2 separate regions of the Homo sapiens genome follow, and region 2 is linked to region 1. Evidence: fine-mapped expression QTL. Tissue or cell type: whole blood. Region 1 holds a variant in brackets; the other region holds the start of a gene. All regions are shown on one strand. Distances are between the middles of the regions.

The links. PIP is the estimated chance that this variant, and not a neighbour inherited with it, causes the effect.
Region 2: it holds the start of SCYL2, and the variant in region 1 is fine-mapped to the expression of SCYL2 in whole blood (INTERVAL, PIP 0.95).

The regions. Positions count from the first base shown.
Region 1 is chr12:100,324,909-100,327,408 of GRCh38, forward strand. It overlaps SCYL2 (SCY1 like pseudokinase 2), which reads left to right. Exons shown (of 18, transcript NM_017988.6): 12 at 1,714-1,846. Among named protein-coding and RNA genes, the nearest start is that of SLC17A8, 31 kb to the right of the region's middle. The variant A/G (reference allele first, on the strand shown) is at 1,101.
Region 2 is chr12:100,266,110-100,268,864 of GRCh38, forward strand. It overlaps SCYL2 (SCY1 like pseudokinase 2), which reads left to right and starts at 1,068. Exons shown (of 18, transcript NM_017988.6): 1 at 1,068-1,683. DEPDC4 (DEP domain containing 4) reads right to left here and starts at 970. Exons shown (of 10, transcript NM_001364818.2): 1 at 811-970. The coding sequence starts at 967. RefSeq lists enhancers at 813-892, 1,563-1,632, 1,643-1,702 and silencers at 1,263-1,312, 1,413-1,492.

The sequences.
Region 1 (2,500 bases):
AATTTATATTAACATACATTTTCTCAAAGTACATGTTGTAGGCCGGGCATGGTGGCTCACACCTTTAATCCCAACACTTTGGGAGGCTGAGGCGAGTGGATCTCGAGCACTGAGTTCAAGACGAGCATGAGCAACACAGCGAGACCTCGTCTCTACTAAAAATAAAAAAATTTAGCTGGATGTGGTGGCATGGTGGGAGCATCACTTGAGACCAAGAGGTCGAGGCTGCAGTGAGTTGTGATTGTGCTGCTCCTTCCAGTCTAGGTGACAGAGCAAGCCCCCGCCGCTCCCCACCCCGCCCAAAAAAAATCCAAAACCAAAGCAAAGCGAGTACCTGTTCTAGTTCAGTTCTGAGCATATGTAGGGGTATGTAGAAATGGGAAACATGGATACTTAAATGATGTGAATTGCTGCCCAGTTATATGTATGTTTCTTTTTAAGATGCCAACTGGCCGTTAAGGCATGTTGTTTACAAGAAGTTATAATGAATGTATTTATATTTAGAACAGTAACTAGGAATGGATTTACATTTTATATGTCACCTTTTAAGTGGATTTTAGATAGTACTTTCAGTGCTTCTGCCTACCTTCAGAGTGGCAAATAGGAATTCCCAAATTGTATTCATAGTCCTCTATCTCTAAAAGTTTAAAATTCTGACTAGGAAATTCCTGAGTCGTGAGTTAGTATTGTGTCTTAATACTCTTCCCTGAAAATAAAATTTTTAAAAATTCTACACAGAGTTAGGTAAAATCCTCCAAGAGCTATATTTATTCATTACTTACATGACTAATATTTTATATATCCTAAAAGTAAATAAAATTAGTATTCTCGGTTTTGCTTAAAATATATATATATCTCAGTAGAATGCAGCTGTTCCTTTTATAAAACGAATTATGAGTACAAGTTAAGCGTTCAGATACCTTTTTGAATTTATAATATCTCTTGTGTTTTAATTTCAGAAAACAATTGTACATTGTTTTTTAGAAATGGAAATTTTTCCCCATTTTTCCTGTAGAACTATGGTGCTTTATTAGCCAACAAAATTATTTTCTGCCTTTGTTGGTTTACTGTTTTTTGAAAACTGGAGTTTTATTAATACT[A/G]TAGTCCTGACTTAAAGATATTCTATCTTAAGAAATTCCAAATAGAAGTAGGGTATGATGTATTTATCAAATAGTCAAGTGCATATGGAATTTTGATAAAAGCTTCTAAATAAGAGGTCTTAATAACTGTATATTTGGAAATAGAAAACACATATATGGATACCTTCACATGTTAAAATATTTAGTTTAAAAATGAATTGAACCCAAGTTAGAGTAAAATACTGGAATGTGGGTGAAAATGATCACTTGGTGCAAAGAATGTAGTCCTTTTTATTATTCAAATGTCCCCAAAGGAGTGTTCTTATGATAGTAACACATAATGTAGTAAAAGTTTCTCAAATTCTAATCACTTTAAAATGCTACAAGATTGTAGTCATTCCTTGACTTTAGCTCACTAGTGACCTGGTGAAGCAATCATAAATTCTTTGTGAAACAAGCCAGGAAAATTAGTAAATAAGTGAATTTCCTATGTTGATAAAGGATGAGAGCTTCTAAATCTACATTTATTCTTGAGACTTTAACATATTTATATGAAGATTAAGTTTACACTTAAATATTTTGTTCTAGATTTTGAAAACTTTTAATGACTAATGCAATTTACCTCTTTTAATAGGTTCGTGTAAATTCATTAGTGTGCTTAGGAAAGATTTTGGAATACTTGGATAAGTGGTTTGTACTTGATGATATCCTACCCTTCTTACAACAAATTCCATCCAAGGAACCTGCGGTCCTCATGGGAATTTTAGGTAGCTGAAAATTTAATGTCATTTGATGCTATTTTATCATGCAAATAAATTTTCCAATCTATAAAACAATTATACTCTCCTTTCGTGTATATAGCATTTCATAATTGAAGAATGATGTGATAAATACCATAATATAACTTTTCTCTTTAAGTTTAGCAAAAGCAGTAGAATCTTGACATTTATAAAGGAATAAGATATTTAAGAATTCTAGCTTTACGAATATCATGATAGCATGTAGTTTTCCCCATAAAATGGTACAAAGTGAGAGAGGCAAACAAAGCTACTGGAAATGCTGATACTGGTCTTAGTAGTAATATCTGAGGTTTATTTGATACTCAATTTGTAAGAGGCAAAGTATTTTCTCTGCGTTATGTTATTTTATTCTTCCCCAAATTCAATTAAATAGGTACTATTGTTTCTATTTTATAAGGAAACTGAGGCTCAGAGAGGTAAAATAAGTGATTCAAGATCATATAAGTGGTAAGTGATAGGAGCTGGTTTTCTAATATGTTTAAGTCTTAATTAGTATATTTTGTGGCTAAGTGATATGCTGATGAAGCATGTTAACCTTATAGGACATTCTGTTCTCTCAGCATAATTACAAATTACTAAGAAACTCTGAAATCATTTATATATAGTTAAAGTTATAGAAGT
Region 2 (2,755 bases), 59 kb before region 1:
ATGATAAGGGAATAACTTAGAACTTCTAGAATGTTTTTTCTAGATTTGCAGGGGGAAGTGGGTAGAATCCAAGAACTTAAGCTCTCTTCTCCAACTATGCATAACCGCAAAAGTATGCCCAACTATACATATGTTTACGATAAAATGACAGAAATAAAAATCCACCACCCTCAAATTCCTTCTGTAACAGAAGTTACCCGTCTAATCACTCAAGAAATCTTATCCCCAGACATTGTGGGCAGAGCGGAGACTGAGGAGGGGAGGCCAGAAAGTGATGGGCGGAGGTGGGCAGGAGGGTACTCGACGGGGTAGGTGGAAAATACAGCGGTACAGCCTGTTTTCCATAGACAGTCTACCTCTCTAACCTTCATTAAACAAGTAGGCTAGATTAAAGAAATAACTCCTCTAGCTCAAGGAATTTGCCCTCTAGTACATTAACCCCTTGTTGCTGTAAGTGTAGCCTAGGGACCAGCAGCATTGGTGCCATCTGGACATGTATTAGAAACGCAGATTATCAGACCCTACTCCTCAATCAGAATTTGCACTTTCACAAGATCCTAGGGATTCGTATGTATATTAAAGTTTGAGAAAAAACGCTTTCCTGCACGCTCCAAGGGCACTTCACCACAGTAACCCCTAAAAAGCCTCAGTCCTGGGTCCCCCAGTCCAGTGCCTGGTAGGGCAGGAAGGGGGCGGGGCTAGGAAATGGGCGGGGCCCTGGACCAATGAGGAGCAGAGTCCCAGCCGCCTGCTCCCTTCAGCTGCCCCCTCCACCTTCACTGCACATTTGGCTAGGATATACAGGGCTACCTGTCCTCCTTTTCCGGCAGAAGCCATCTCTACGGTTCCTGGAACTTGGCCCGTTCAGCCCTGGGCCCGGAAGCTCGTTCTGACTGACAAGTCTACGGAACCTCGGAGTCAAAAGAACCGCCATAAGCTCGCGCGCTGGCTCCTCCCCTGGCACCATAGCCCCGCCCCACCTGACACCCGGGGCGGAGAGAAGTACTGGCTCCGCCTCTTCCGAACCGGCAGGAAGTGACGTCATGCCCCCGGCCGGCAGGTCTTTTAGTCTTTTTCCCCCTCCCTTACTCTTCGTCCCCGGTCCCTCCCCTCCCCACCCCTTTCCTTCTAGCTCCGACGTTTGCGGCCGCGGGGGCGGCGGAGGATATGGAGTAAAGCCAGAGTCAGTGGCCAGGCACGAAGGCAGAGCAGGAACAGCCAGGAGGCGTTTATTAGGGGGGCGGGGGGAAAGAGCCCCAGCACCGCCCCTCCTGGAAGAAGGAAGAGGTAAGTGACCGGCCGCCGGCACCGACCGACCTCCCTCACCGGCGGCTCTCTCGCCTGGGCTCCCGGAGCCGGCGAGGAGGGAATGGAGGACTCGCGCCCGGGTTAGGCCTCCCAGGGCCGCTCAGGCTGGTGGGTGTTGCCTGGTGACGGGCCTGCCGGCGGCCGGCCGGGCGATCGGCGGTCGGCGCCCGCGCAAAGCGGGGCTGGACGAGCAGCGAGCTCCGGGGAGCGGATCCGAGAGGGCCGAGTCCTCGAAAGAGGCCTTGAGGCGACGGGAGACCCGGGATCGAAGTCAGCTGCCGGAGGGAGAGCCCCCCATGCCGGCTCGAGAGCTCGGGTTTCGGTGGTGGAGAACGTAGTACCTTTCGGGGACATTGGACACTACTCTAGGACCGGGTGAGAGAGTTCACCTCAGTTCTGAGGTCCGGAATCCGGTAGCCTGGGTCACCAGCCAGGGCCCTGCCGCCCGCCGTCCTTCTCTGACAGTAGCTTTAGTTCTGGAATGGAAGGTTATTGTGTGTGAGGTGGGTGGGGCAGGGGTTTTGTTAAGAGAAAAAACCCCACGGTTACTCCTGCAGTCTTGTTTTTCTAAACGGGAGAATACGGATGGAGGAGGGTTTAGACCGATAAAGCTTGCAAAAACTTATTGGACTTTGAGCACATACCTGTGATCCGTAATTAAGGAGGCCATATTATCAAATCCACCCTCTAAGGCACTCGAGGAGGCTCCAGACAAGCTGCTTAAAAGCGCTATGCCTGTAGTGACTTCATTGGAAGGTGTCAACTATTTTTTAGTACGTCAAACTCAGGAATTATTTGTGATGACACTTTCTAAAAACATTGGATACTATGAGTGAGTTTTCTAAGTAGCCTATCTCCGTTCTGAAAAATAAATAGTTTAGCAAAAATGCTCCAAATCAGCCTGCCACTGTAAAACCCCATTATGTTCTGGTGATGGCTTGAAAGTCAGGTGCTTGAAGATTCCTTTTGGACTTTGCAGGTTTGTTGTTGTTTGGTTTGCTGTCTTATTCTTTAGCACAAATATTTTTAAAATATTTAAAAATGAAATCAGCTGAGTATATAAATTACTTCTTGAGGCAACATTAAACTGTAATCATAAAGAATGCTTTTGGGGGATTGTGTAAAGGAAGGGAACCTAATGGAAGGTAAGGGCCTTCATTCTCTTTAGATTTACATTACTCACATGCAGAAACCTATTTTGTCTCTAAGATTCATAAATACCCAGTAAAATAAATACAGGCACATTGTACTTCTATACTGTGGAATACTTTCTAGACAGATCAACCCTGTTACTGGGAATAACTACTCATATTCACATGTTTGAAATTCATGATATACCTCCCTTCCCCCACCCCAAGAAGAAAAATAGCTCCTCTTACTGTGTTTAACTCCGTGGGTAGCATCACTATCCATTCCTTTGTATAGAAGTTGAAGTTTGACAATTCCT